Homo sapiens: one gene and its partners. The protein of the gene in region 4 purifies or fractionates together with the protein of the main gene of each other region. This does not show direct contact. Each region holds a gene or a part of one and is shown on either strand. Other genes may lie near its edges.

Region 1 (3,414 bases), on a different chromosome or scaffold from region 4:
CCTGGAGGTATGCAGGGAGAAGGAGAACGAGAATCAAGCTGCCAGAACTGAAACCTCCTCATTCTACCCCAGGATCTCCATCCTCCACCACATCCAACAGCCAACTGTCTTGAATAACCGGGATGTTGGGGGATGCCCTGGGCGGCTGTGGTGATTCCATTACCACTCTGGGAAGTTCCTCTCAAGAGCTGTGCTCATGCCCATCTGCTGTGGCTGCAATCCTAGAGCAGGGGCACCCATTTTTCTCCAGGCATGGGAGGCTCTGTCCAGAGAGGTGACTGGGGCTGAGGGGTAGGAGCCGCCCGTGTGGTCCTGGTGGCCTTGTTGGGTCTGGCAGCATTAGTTATTCTACCCATGCCATTCTTTTATGGTGATATCATCCAGGAGACACCCTGAATATTCCCAGACAATACTACACTCCATCTCAAAGCGCTAGACAGTGACATTTCTTACCCTCATAGGCACCGTCCCCTCCCTTGCCCCATGCACAGCCCCAGGGTCAGGACAGGGTCCACACTGTTGCATCCAGGGCAACCCTCGGCACTGTTCGCTTTCACCATTTTTCAGGGACACACAAATTTCTAGCTTTAGGTTTTACAGAAGCAGGCTTGGCAAATGCTCCTAACTTTCCACCACCAGGGAGTTATAGTGCCGTCTCCTGGGAGTTTAAGTTATTGGCTGGATGCAGATGTTTGAACGGGAGAGTCTCGCTTTGAGTCCTACCTGCCACATCCAGGTCTACGCGGTAGTGCACCAAGTGAGTGTGTATGTTGCCAATCAGGTGGGTGTGCAGGCGAGTGCCGTGGCGCAGCCCCTCGGGGGTGTAGAAGGTGGCGTGGACGTAGCCAGTGGCATGCATCTTGGCCTCCATCACCCCGTTGGGGTAGAAGATAAAGTCCCAAATGTAATCATAATTGTAGACAGTTGAAGTTGTCCGCAGCACCAGCACCTGGCCCTTCAGCCCCGCATAGAAGTTGAAGCCACCTTTAAAGTTGGAATTAAAGTGCCGCCGAAGGGGCACCCCTGTGGGCATTTCAAAGAGGCAGAGGGCTCGGGGATAATGGACCGGGTCATCGGCATCATAGTAGTGGAAAGTGTCCAGGAAGGTGGCGGTCTCCGGGCAGTCGATGCCGGGGGCTAACTCATGAGTGACGCTGCCCAGGCCCCAGCCGACATCGAGGTACTTGGTCTGCATGCCTGCAGGTGTGTGTCCTCCATACAGCGCCACTGCCTCTTGCACGCTGACCTCATAGGCAATGCGCTCTCCGCCGAAGTGCACGTTCAGGACCTGCAGCCCGGAGGAGGAGCGCAGCCGGAAGGCAAAGCTCCAGCCGCCGTAGAGCACAGCGTTGCCCTCCAGCCTGAAGCGAGGGCCGTGGGGCTGGACCAAGCGGGGGCCGCTCACATGGATGGGGCTGGGGAAGTCCCCGCGGGGCTTGTGGGAGGAGAAGAGGGGCGGCTCCTCTGTGCTGTCATGCCCCTTGCCCCCAGGCAGCGGGTCCTCCAGGACCACCACGTCCACCTCTCCATCTGCATACTTCCGAGCCAGTTCCTCTGGGCTCCCATAGAACTTCCCGTTGTACCACACCTGCTCCACGGCCCAGTGCCCAGCATCTGTGCTCCCATGATCCACGAGGAGCTCCAGCCCAGTGGGGTGCAGAAAGTAGCCTTCTACATAGCGCTGTATGATAAGCCAACTGCGGCGCTGGCCAGAAGCCACACCCCGGGGGGCCACATCGGTGAAGGCCAGGCATCTGTCATGGCAGTCTTGGAATGAGAAGCCTGTGGTATTGAGGAAGAACTGATGCAGGGGCTTGGTGGCTTCCTGCAGGGTGTGGTAGAGGAGGGCATACTCTGCTGTGGAGATGGGCCTCGATGCCCAGGAGGACTGGTACCCAGGCCTGGGGGACAGTGCTCGCATGTAGCAGGGCCCTGGCAGGGGCCCCACAGCAAACTCGGTGACATTGGGATGCTCCTGGTCACCAAAGAAGATGACGGCACGGGCTTCCCGCACAGGATGCCTTTCACCTTTATCCAGAAACCTCAGCACATGGTACTTCTTGGGCAGCAGCATCTCGATGAGAAACACGGTGTTCTTGGCCATGGTGGTGGTACTGGAGGGCTGCAGCCTCAGCTCCTTCTTGGACCAGAGGAAGCTGTGCACTGCCTTCAGCTCTTGGTTGCTTAGGTCTGAAAACACCCCTGCCTTCCTGGGCAGAGTCCCCGGGGAGGGCTCCGCCATGGCCGTCTGCAGCATCAGGATGGCAGCCACGGCCCAGCCCAGGGCCGGCATCTCTCGCTCCACGGCTCTGGAATGCAATAGAGGAGATGAACTTAGTTGTCTTATGGGCAGAGATGGGCTTCCCTCAGGTTAGGGCCATGGAATTTTCCCATGGACTGAGCTTCCTCCCCTTGCCCTGCCCCAAGCTGGAGGCTGTCCTGGGGCAGCTGGGGCCCCATGCATAGTCCCCAGCGCCGTCGGGCCGCTGCCTGTGCATCCATCCATTTATTTCTGCCCTCTCCTCACTCCTCTGTAAATGTCCTTCAGTCCTGCAGCCTTCCTTACTCAGGGGAACACCCTTGTTTTTGTGTATTATCTCAGCCAGGGGTGCCGTGAGTCACAGAGGCCAGGCTGGGCCCCTGCACATGCCCCCAGGTGCTTCTTGTGTCCTGGAGAAGAAGACACCTGTATTAACAGCAAAACTACATTTCTGACACAACGAAATACCTTTTAGGTAGACAGATTTTGAAATTTAGTGTAGAAATTCAAAGGTAGGCTCTAGAGTCAGGCTGTCTGAGTCAAGTCCCAGTGACTCATGCCACTAGGACTTGCTGTGTGGCCTTGGGCACGCTGCTTAAACTCTCTGGGCCTTCATGTTCTTAGTTTTAAAATGAAAATAATGACAACAGTGCTTAGCTCCTAGGGTTGTGGAGAGAAATCAATTAAACAGTAAATATAAAGTGTTTGTAACAATGTCTGCCATATGGGAAATACATGAGAAATGTTAGCTGCTCTTCTTGTTAAATACAGGCTATCGACACCAGCCCATTTAAAGTTTTACGCAATGTAGAGTGATTCAGGTGTGACTAGGCTGCAGACTGATGGCTTTGGGGGTGAGGTAGAGGTGCCCAGTCCTGCCTAGCCTTCTTTGTGCCCCATTCACCTCTCTTGTCCACCCAAGGCTACTAGGAGGGGACCTCAGGGAGGGTTTCATCTTAGGAAGATGCCTTTTCCTTTCTCAGGGAGGGTGGGTCAGGGTCTTCACCTCATAACCCCATTCCCCAAGCAGCTGTAAAATCCTGTGCTTGTAGCTGTGAGCCTCCTGCAGGGCTGGGAGACGTGGTGGCCACAGCTCTGTCTTCCCATGTGCTGTGTGCGGAGTCTCTGGGAGACTGTTACTCTTGCCTGTTGCG
Region 2 (3,670 bases), on a different chromosome or scaffold from region 4:
AAATAAAAATTCATTTTATAAGTTAGGTTTATATGGGAATTTATTGCAGAACTCATGTCTATGCTCTTCAAATAAGAATTTGAATGTCAGGAAAATATGTAGGCTGGAATAATTATATGAGAGCTACAAATATAGTTTAGCAAATGTATTTCTTTTGAAGGTTACTGGGATTTAAGACATATTTTGAAGAAATATATACAATCTCTGAAAATTATTTGATTTTTATTAAATCAGCTAATAAAAAATACATTAAATTATCTGTAACTACCATGCATCTTCCATGATCTCTATTCTATAGGATATGTGCTATAAGACAAAGCAGGATCCTGAAAATGGCACTATAGGACTGATTTGCAGTAAGCAAATGACTCTGCACAATAATACACAGGAAGAAATTAAACTAAAAAATTTCTCCCAAAGGTCAGTAACTCAACTATGACATACGAAATGTAGTAACAGACAACCCAGAACCATTCCTTTATCTGGGTTTCCCAATGAAGTAATTATGCATAAGTCAGAACTCATTATAATTCAACTTATTTAAGATTAAAACATTATTATTACACTGATATAATGTAACAGAACGAAAAGTCCTTTTTGACAATTCAAAAAGGATTGTTGGATTAGCTGGATAGTTGGATTACCAATAACATTTTATTTAAATATGGGTATTTACATGTATTTTTAATTAGCACTTTGAAGAATTAAAGAACACAGAAGCTCAACTTAACTATGAAATCCTCTAAAATAGAGAAAACCAAAGTTTGCTACTAATCGGAAGAGAGCTGAAGACACCTACTGAAGGAATGCTGATCTTATCTTGTTACTTTACATTACATAAATTTTGTAAAAATAAACCATCATTTAAAAATCAGCACAGAAATAGTCACAAGGAAAAAAATGTCCAATTTCTAAGAGATTCTTCTCATAATTTTTGTTTAAAATAATGGAATTTCTTTGAAAAGTGCTCTTCATATCACATCTAGCTACACTATCATGTAATGCTTATAATGTAAAAGCAGATCCTATTCTGATGATACCACTAAAGAATTTAAATATTTATGCATTCTCAAAATATATTTTAACAGACATGGCTTCCATGTTTACAGTACTAAAATGTTTGCTTCATAAAATTCAGTCTCTTAAAATGTTTTAAAAAGTATACACACTGAATATGCCAATATTTTATCTAAGGCACCTGCTTTAACCCAAAAATAGTCATGAAGACATTTTCAGTTCCACACCCTCAAATTTTTATTTTGATATTTTTTTTAAACACATGTTCTGAGCAATATACATCTTTTGTTTAATGCTAATGTTTCAGATGATACCTATTAAATGTCACAGACCACTGTGCAGCTCCTGAGGGACAGTCCGCAATAGCACACTCCACATCATTGAACCAATCAGTTGTGAAATAAAGCCATCTATTCCAGGCAAAACCACAAGAAAGGGTGTCTTATGAAAAAGATGGAAAAGCTTTATGACAAAACATATTTAAAAAGGAGGAAAAAGTATGTTCGATACTCTGTTCTATGTGGGTTACATTTTCTTACACTTTTAATCTCTTCACAAGAATGCTTGTAAGCAAATTTGCCTAGAACATTGTTGCTAATGTATAGTAAGATTAGAAACATATATATATATAAAGGAAATGAGTTTCATTTTCTAAGAACAGCTAAAAAGCATGATTTATTAAAACTGCCTAAACATATGAGCACCAGTTTCAGTTATCCTATTATCCAACAGAAGCACACAAATGTTAACCTTTTCACTTATCAGAATGCCCTCAAAATATCTGCTGTCACAATGATCATTACATAAGAATTGAAATATCTCAAGGCTAACGTACCTGCTTGGATTTTCTGTTGATCATCTGTGCTCATCAGCTTCCAGCTTTCTGTGTGACGAACAGCATAGAAAGACTGAACCAGGAAGATCCACAGCTTATCACGCAGAGCCTGGATCTTGCACGTAAAACCCTGTGTTCAAGCAACAAATCAGCAGCTGGTGAGAGCCACATTGTCATAGCAACCAGTCATTATTCCTTTCAGAATCTACTTACTCCTAAGCTAGATCAATGATGTCATCATTTAGATTTTTAAGATCGTTGGGTACATGTTATTTATGAAGACTTATTAATAACAAAATTTTATAAATGAACACAAAGCTAAAAAATCTCATCTTTTCAACCAAATGTTATTTTAAAACACCAATGCCCTTGATATGAACACCTTCCACAGCCTTTTCATATCAACTATGACATTACAAGGTCAAATGCTCTATGGAATAGTAATAAATATGATACATTTTAAAAACCATTCTTGTCGAACAAATACAGAATGCCAATAATTTGTAATTACCTAATTAATGGCCACTGATTAATTGTATTTAAAAATAAATATTTTAATTTTGCTTCCCAGCCTAATTTTAAAATATGATTTTTTGAAGAGAAAAATTAAGATTATAAAAATAAAAGACACTGATGATTAAAAACTCTAAAATATACATTTATATCTAAAATATACATTTTATATCTAGAAAATTTACTGTAGGACCAGGGAGAAATACGAGAGTTATGCTGTGCCAAATAATGTTGCTAAATATCACACTAAATTTAAAATTACCCAGCCAAACTGCCAATTTCTAAACTTTTATAAGAAGTCCATTTGGAGACAAACGGAATTTTTAAAATTTAGTATTATAAAAAATTCCAAACATATACAAAAGTAGAGACCTTAATCCACCCCTAGGTATCCACTGCCTAGCTTCAATGACCCTGCAACATTTAAAATGCACATACATCTAAAAATCTTAGTTCAAATATTGCATTATTTTAATAAATTTCATTACATTCAGTACCATTTCCTTTGTACTGTCAGAGTTCAGCAGTGTGTCCAGAGCCATAAGAAGAGAGCAGCTATTTTCAGTGGTGATATTTTCTTCAATTGCTTTTAAAATTGTGTCCAACAGATCGGCTGTGCTGCTCATTGCTTGTGACTATAAAACACAGAAATTAATATTTAAGAGGAATACATATAAAATGCACAAGAAATGTGAAAGTCTGGCGTAACAGATCATTATAACTAGCTGTATGAAGTCAACCAGAAATCGTATTTTTTCCCTTTGTTAAAAAATTCGCATATATGCATATGCACGCAGCTTTTATTTTTATTTATTTATTTTTATTATACTTTAAGTTCTAGGGTGCATATGCACAACGTGCAGGTTTGTTACATATGTATACATGTGCCATGTTGGACACACAGTTTTTAAAAGCCAACATAGCCCTAAATACAGAACCTAGAAATAAACAATAGGAGTTATTCTGTGAATAATTTTAGAGAAAGTAGCTTCCCAATAAGACAGAGAATTCTGCATGGATCATAATTGTATTACTGGCCAAAACAGTACCTTTATGACTTTGGTTTCTAAAATGTGGCTTGCTGAGGGAGGGCTAGAGTTGGCCAGAATTACACTGTGCCTTGCCAGGGCACTCAAACCTGTCCCTCTCGCCTTTCTCATCTTGTGAGCCAAATATCCTGTCCATCACTGCCTTAAATCCTATGTAAACATGCCATCTGCTATGGAGTTTATTTAAATCACATTAATTTAATCAAAAGCAACCTGCATTTAAAAGCTCTTACATAATTGAAATCAGAACACAAAG
Region 3 (3,670 bases), on a different chromosome or scaffold from region 4:
ATTCAATTTTATTTTATTTTTAGTTAATACTAGCTTGCTGTAACTAGAGGCTGGAGAAGCCACAACCTCACTGATTCTAATTTCTAAAGTAAGTGGGCTGAGTAGATGGTCCTCAAAAAATCTTCATGTGGAGAAAAAACGTACATAAATGGGAGAGAATGATTGGTCAAAAAATGGTACTGAGAAAATAAAATATTTGGATAAGGAATCAAGTTTGACCCATGGCTCCTATCTAATAATGAATAAGTATTAAATATTACAAAAATTGAAATCACACACACGAAGAAAATACAGCAAATAGATGGTCTCTGATAAGTATAAATGTAATAGAAGGGGTAAAAAAAATCTTAGGTTTAATTATATAAAATTTGAAAACTTCTCCTGGTCAAAATTTATATATAAAAGGTATGCAGAATAGAGACTGGGAGGATATGCACCAAAATGTTTCCAGTGATTGTCTTTGGGTATTGTTCTTATTGGTGGCTTATTTTCTTCTTTGTACTTCCTACACTTTAAAACATACATGCAAACAAATATAAACATTAGTTGTTTAACAGAAATATAATTATACAGCATCCATTATAGTATAACTCAGTTTTACTTAGGTACATTTCTCATTGGTAGAGATTGAATTCAACTTCTCTTTTAAATATACACAGACATTTTTTATAAAAACGGATGTATATCATAATCCTTTTGTAGTGCTATTGTTTCCTCCTATTTTGATTGCCTCCCACTCTCCTCCTTACACTTACACACACACACGCACACACACACACACACATTTGATATATAATCCAAGAACCTGGTATATACCCTTCCACTCTTCTGTGATTATATGATGGCACAGCAACATACACACGTAGAGAGCTTTTGTTAAATCTTTTACTCAATAAAGAGTATTATACTGAATGCTCTGAATCTTACTTTTTTCATGCAACAATATCTTGTAAAAATCTTCCAGGTCCAAGAGTGGACTACTAATTTTGTCTCTTTAATGACTGCACTTTTCATGGCCTGAAATATACCCTATCATTACTACCACCATTACTACAACTAGAGTGTACACACACACACACACACACACACAATTCATGTATCCTCTTTTCCTCAATAATTTTAAAGCCTCTTAGAACAATGGTACAGACACAGATTAAATACATATTCTGCTGCCTTTGCATTTAGACAATTTAGCTGTTCCTAAAAAGAACCACTTGTAACACTTACTTTCAGTCCATATTCTGTCCTGTATATGTTTCCCATTTTTCCAGGCATTTTAGTTCCAGGCCAGACTCTGCCAATATCCTAAATGAGAAAACTAAAGTTAACACTTTTAAGTACTATCAATTTTAAACAGCACTGATCAAACCACAATGTAAACTAAAAATATAAATTATTAAAATGTTTTATTTTTCCCCTATTCTGCTAGGTCCCAAGTAAGGAACTAAATATGGATTTAGGCATATTTACTCCTAGAGGATTTCCTTTCTAATGAGACTAGAATGATAAAATAAATACAGACTAAGAAGCAGATTTAGGAGAAAAACTCAGCAACAACGGACCTAATACTGGCTAAGAATTAAAAAAGGACAAGGGCATACAGACACACCGACACCATCATTCAAAGAAAAAAAATGGACTGCCAGGCCTGTTTTGAACTCATCTTCTGTATTAACTGACTTAATGGACTTCATCCATACCACTGGTGCTGGAATGGTCCTACTGCTCCTTGCTTTAGATGTTACTTTCCTTGACCAAAATTATTCAAGGACAGAGTTAGTTATCAGAATACTAGTTTGTCTAGCCCTGGTTTTCTCTGATTTACATAAATCTAACAGTCTCTGATTTTGGCTCTGATAACGGGTAATAGTTCTACATCTAAAGAAGCAAATCTGAATTATGACTAAAATGGAACAGCTTCTTATAACACATGAATTCTCACAATATAAACACTTTTCCATCAGCTGCTCTCACATTAACAGGTGAAACTCTCAGTGGAAGTACCTCATCATGGCATTAGATATGTTTAATATGTAACCAACAGGCTTAAAAGACAATTCTGAGTATTACAGACTAAGTATCACTCTTATTCATTCTACAAATATATTCCGTTATATATGACTACAATGTTCCAGTAGACAGAACTAAGACACACACACACACACCCCTCTGTTTCTCTGTGTGCTACATTTTTTCCTTGTGTGCATGCATGCATTCCCCTCCCCCACCAAACAGTATATGCATACTTATAGTTTGAATTCAACACTATAGGGTTCATTTTAATTTTCCCATTTTCATACTTTAACGCCCTTTTCCAACAGTGAGAAACCTAGCTCCATTATCAATACATTTACTTATCTACTCAATCCTACAATTCACAGAAAATTATTTCAGAATTGTTAACTGATACTAATTCAAAAGACAAACTGAATTCAACATTTGCACAAAGTACATTTTAAATTTAGACTCAGGGTATATACAGCCAAACTACAGATGCTCAGCTAACCTTGTGGAATATAACTAATTCTAGTCTGGCTCTGGGAAATGAGTGAGGGGCAAGGATCCATAAAAGGGTGACAAGTACATGGAGTCCCCTTGTGTCAGACTAAAATTATGTGACTTCATATCAAGGACGGACTGAGGACTACATGTGCAGAAGTTGAATATTTAGCATTAAAAAGAGCTTCACTAGTTATACTCACACCAGTTGCAACAGCTCCAGGTCTCCTGTGGGTTTTCGTTTGACCATGCGTAGCAGGCTGGCCTTTAAATCCCCATCTTTTCATGACACCTTGAAAACCTTTACCAATACTGAACAAAACAAACGTTAGAATTTACATAATGAAAAGAGCATAGACCATTCCCAATTGTACACTTTCTAGTACCAACTGTACACATTCTTGTTAGAGTTTTAACAAAGCTTCTTATTTAAATAACTAGAAAAGGCTATACAACTAAAACTGCAAATAAATATTCCTTTATCTCTGTCTTGGTCTGCACCCCTTCCTGGAGTCTAATTCTATATAAAATGATTAATTCAAGATTGTGAGACACCAGCAAGCTAAGCACAGGGAATTTTATCTGAACAGGAGTTTTATCATCCTAATTCTGTGAAGATGACACAGTAAAAATGGAAAAGCTCTAGAAGTTTCAAAGTACTTATAGCAGATATGGCAAGCAGCCATTAAGATGGAACCCAAAGATCACCACCTCCTGGTACTCATGCTCCTGTTTAATTCCCTCCCCTTGAGTCTGGGTGAACCTAGTCCCTTGCTTCTAATAAATAAAATATGGCAAGAGTGATGAGATGTCACTTCTGAGATTTGGTTACAAAGAGACTGTAGCTTCCATCTTGGTACTCTCTTGCTTGCCAGGCTCTGAAGGAAGCCAACTTCCACAGCTAGTGTAAACTGTCCTATGGAGAGACATGCTGCAAGGATGTCTCCAGCTATTAACGAAGGACCTGAGGTCTGCCAATGGACTATTAGTAGGTATGGAGGCAGATTCTCCCCAATTAGAACCTTGACATGACTACAGCCCTGGCTGATGCTTGACTGCAGCTTTGGGAGAGACCCCAAGTCAGAGGCATCCAGGTAAGTTACAATGGGATTTCTGAGCACAGAAACTGAGGTAATAAATGTTTGTTATTTTAAGCTATTAAGTTTTAGGA
Region 4 (4,009 bases):
GCAATAAAAGTGGAAGATTCACAGGCCTCATCAAATCCCCTGGAGCCCTACATTAAATAGATTAGTCATCTGTGCTCTCCAGAGTTACACATCCCCAAATTTCCATTTCTTTGTGCTTGGTAAACACAATCTTACCCCACATCTTTACTTGGGTTTGACTTATAATAAAAATATACCACCACCAAATTCATATGTTCCAGTTCTAACCCACAGAATCTCACAATGTGAAATTGTTCAGAAATAGGGTCATTGCAGATATAGGTAGTTAAGATGAGGCCATTAGGGTGGCCCTGATCCAATGCCTGGTGACCCTCTAAGAAGATGGTATTAAGACACGGATGCATGGAGGAAAGGCCATGTGCAGACAAGGGAGAAGGCGCCATCTATAAGCCAAGGAGAGAGGCCTCAGAATGCGATCGACCCTGCCAGCACCTTGATCTTGGACTCCCATCTCCAGAACTGTGAGGAAATACATTTCTGTTATTTAAGCCACTCAGTCCGTGGTACTTTGTTATGGCAACCCGAGCAAACCACTATAGTGACCTGAAATGGTTTTGAATATGCTCAGTAAAAGCAAGCCAAAAGCCTAGTTGATTTCATCTGCCAAACCAACGGGCTAGATAAACACTTTTTATAAGACAGGAAGAATGTTGTCGAATCATATCTGGCATTGCGTGGAGGTGTGAGGAAATGGTGTCACGACTCTTCACATCACAGCCTTGTGCCGCAGTCACTCACATGTGCAGCCAGTGGGGGACATCTATTTCCCTGCATGCTCAGATGTGGGCACAAGCCCTTGAGCCCGATACTGAGAGCCTTTTTTCGGAAACACCCTAGTTTGTCAGTTTCTCCCTTGTCTCTTTCTATGGTTTCCTTTTCTAACAAAGAGCTAAACCTACGAGGTCATGACATAAATGCTAGTATTCTATACAATTTCATGATGAATTATTTTCTTTCCTTCTCTTTCTTTCTTTCCTTTCTTTCTCTCTCTCTCTCTTTCTTTCTTTCTGACAGAGTCTTGCACTGTCACCTAGGCTGTAGTACAGTGGTGCAATCTCAGCTCACTGCAACCTCCACCTCCCAGGTTCAAGCAATTCTCCTGCCTCAGCCTCCTGAGTAGCTGGGATGACAGGTGTGTGCCACCATGCCCGGCTAATTTTTTTGTATTTTTGGTAGAGACGGGATTTCACTATGTTGGCCAGGCTGGTCTCAAACTCCTGACCTCATGATCTGCCTACCTTGGCCTCTCAAAGTGCTGGGATTACAGGCGTGAGCCACCATGCCCGGCCTTCTTCATTTCTTTCTAATGAATATTATACAAGGAACGTTTTTGTTTTCATTCTAGTTTTCCTTAATGAATCTTAGTGGGAAATTCATGTTTCTGGGAAATTTTGACAACATAAAGACTTACATATCTCTGGTTGGGGTATGCCCAGCACCATCTGGCCATTCAAGACTGTACTAAAGTATGGGCCTCATTACTCTCGATCTTGTCAGACCACTTGGCTATTCGGGAATTATTTCATCAAGCTGAAGATATTCCCTAAAAGATCCCAGTGAAGCCTGTTCCCTACAATTGACAATGTTTTATATTTTAAAAATACATAAATTAATAACGTTCCAGAAACATTACTTGCTCTTTTTTCAGCATTAGCATAACTAGAAGAAAATGATTTTATAAATTTCCAACATAAAATGAATGTCTCTGCGATCATCTGTAAGATTTCATCTCCACCGGAAGTAAGATCATGACAACCAAAAGTCGCTTTGACGAAACAAATCTAGGACATGTGTGTCATTGTGACTCAACATTTCCCTTACCATTTGGCGGAACCTAGTGTTTTTCTACTATAGGTTCAGCCATCTCTCTATCAAGCCATGACCTCCGTCTTATTTAGACATGATTCCTTATTTGCCAAAGAATAACAAATTGTATTTTTCTTACAAGCCTATCATTTTCATTGTCTTAGTCATTACAGGTTTTAAGTTGTTTCAGTCTGACTAAACAACACTAAATGGTAGATAAACCTAGGAAGATATTTCCGAATATGATGCTTCTCTGAGCAAGAGCACAAATACCAAATTATTTGGCCTTCTCTTTAAAATCTGAGAGGTTTTACATGAACTATGTCTAACCATAATTGAGTTTTCAGTAAGAACCAAGTTTATCTTTAAAAAAAAAAAAAAGAAAAGAAAATACACACAGTCAGATTCACCCCAATTGGAATATAACGTCTCCCAGTGTTAAAATAACAATGACACCGTCACAGCGCACTAAAACTTGGGGCTGATGTAGACACTTAGGGGTAGGCAGACACCCCCCAACAGTCAAAGGTGCCATCTCCTCCATGCAACAGGCACAGGAGTCATTTTCTAGATTCCTTTTTTGAGCTTTTAAAATTTATAAACCTCACATTTTCATCCCAAAATAGCACATTTCAATCATTGTAAGAGTTTACAAGACTGCACACGCCACAGAGTTTAATTTTTCTTGGTACCAAACTTAACAGAACTCATATTAAAGGGTTCAGCGACCCCAAATCCTTCTTCTTTGCCTCCTTTCTCACAATATTATACATTCTATGCCTTAAAATGAATATAATGACTTGCATGGACCACAGGGCTTACAGAGAAGATGGCTGGGGAACAAGACTCCTGAGTCTTACCTTGAACTGAGGATTCCAGAACCAGGATGAGGGCAAGAGCCAGGACAAGCCGACTGCATTTGAGTAGCTTCTGCATCATGACCAACTTAGTCTAGCTCTCCCAGCTGCACGCCAACTTCTTGATTAGGAAATGTAGCAGGGTGCTCTCTGTCCCTTTTAGAAAATGTTCCAAAACCTCAAACCCTGCCCAGAACACACGTCACAATTTCCTGAACAAATAGAAAGACATCCACATCAAAACCCAGAAAGAAAGGGGGTGGGGGGAACACAGTAAAATAACTATTCATACCCATTATGAAACTGTACTGGACTCCCCCCAGGCCTGCTTTTTCAAAAGTTTTGTTGTTTGCCACTTGCCTGCAAGACATTTTTTTTTCCCACCGAAACAGTAGAATCAGCATTTGGGACAGTTTGTTTTTCCTTTCTTCAGGTAACAATCTAAACACTAGATTGCTAATATTAAGAATCTGCTGCATTTTTTATGAGATAAGGGATCTAGGTGCTGCCTTTTCGTCACCAAGCACTTTCAACATAAAACATTCTCTTCATTTTCTTTTTCACCGGGGAGTAACATACCTCACTGAGCCAAGCTCGTGAAGTGAAACTTCAAAGCTGAGCTCTAACCTTCAAGAATGAGTTGTCGGATTTCAGATGAACAGTTTCTTCTTCTTCTTTTTCTTCTTTTTTTTTTTTTTTTTTTTTTTTTTGAGATGGAGTCTCACTCTGTCACCCAGGCTGGAGAGCAGTGGCGCGATCTCAGCTCACTGCAACCTCCATCTCCAGGGTTCAAGCAATTCTCCTGCCTCAGCCTCCTGAGTAGCTGGGATTACAGGCGTACACCACTGCGCTGGACTAATTTTGTATTTTTAGTAGAGACGACGTGTCACCATGTTGGCCAGGCTGGCCTCAAACTCCCAACCTCAGGCCATCCGCCTGCCTCAGCCTCCCAAAGTGCTGGGATTACAGGCGTGAGCCACCGTGCCCAGCAAACAGTTTCTTCTTAAACTCAGTTTCTTGCATTGGATCATTGGCTCTCTCTCTATCTCAAGAACATAGGATTTTCAGTTACAAAGACTGTGGTAAAACAGAAAAACTATTTTGCATTCCCCTCTCCTTCACATTGAGCATTTCTTAAGATGGATTCCATTTCTATTTTTATCTGTTCTCCTAGTCAAAATTTTCAACTCGAGTTTTGGGTCCTCTGGCCTTGAATAAGCCAGAAATCAGGAACGAGGGAGAGGTTGTCCTCACAGTGAGCTGCTGGACCTCAGCAAACAACACAAACCTCTGCCTCATGTAAATAAAGGAACAGCATTTTCCCTGGGCATGGTGCAGATTTCTGG

What was found. Proteins that work in one complex are often made in the same cells at the same time.
Region 1: the proteins of SRGN (region 4) and AOC1 purify together in Homo sapiens (affinity purification with mass spectrometry, with the first as the bait; one study listed by BioGRID). This does not show direct contact.
Region 2: the proteins of SRGN (region 4) and BTBD8 purify together in Homo sapiens (affinity purification with mass spectrometry, with the first as the bait; one study listed by BioGRID). This does not show direct contact.
Region 3: the proteins of SRGN (region 4) and MRPL3 purify together in Homo sapiens (affinity purification with mass spectrometry, with the first as the bait; one study listed by BioGRID). This does not show direct contact.

Annotation. Positions count from the first base shown.
Region 1 is NC_000007.14:150,855,350-150,858,763, reverse strand, and holds part of AOC1 (diamine oxidase [copper-containing] isoform 2 precursor), read right to left. Parts: intron 2,310-3,414; 5' UTR 2,294-2,309; coding exon 724-2,293; intron 2-723; coding exon 1-1. UniProt on the Homo sapiens protein: Catalyzes the oxidative deamination of primary amines to the corresponding aldehydes with the concomitant production of hydrogen peroxide and ammonia.
Region 2 is NC_000001.11:92,167,178-92,170,847, reverse strand, and holds part of BTBD8 (BTB/POZ domain-containing protein 8), read right to left. Parts: intron 3,001-3,670; coding exon 2,863-3,000; coding exon of another isoform or gene 2,854-2,862; intron 1,983-2,853; coding exon 1,853-1,982; intron 1-1,852. UniProt on the Homo sapiens protein: Involved in clathrin-mediated endocytosis at the synapse. Plays a role in neuronal development and in synaptic vesicle recycling in mature neurons, a process required for normal synaptic transmission.
Region 3 is NC_000003.12:131,468,469-131,472,138, forward strand, and holds part of MRPL3 (large ribosomal subunit protein uL3m), read right to left. Parts: intron 2,812-3,670; coding exon 2,703-2,811; intron 1,306-2,702; coding exon 1,228-1,305; intron 1-1,227.
Region 4 is NC_000010.11:69,086,894-69,090,902, reverse strand, and holds the start of SRGN (serglycin isoform 1 precursor), read right to left. Parts: upstream 2,801-4,009; 5' UTR 2,746-2,800; coding exon 2,667-2,745; intron 1-2,666. UniProt on the Homo sapiens protein: Plays a role in formation of mast cell secretory granules and mediates storage of various compounds in secretory vesicles. Required for storage of some proteases in both connective tissue and mucosal mast cells and for storage of granzyme B in T-lymphocytes.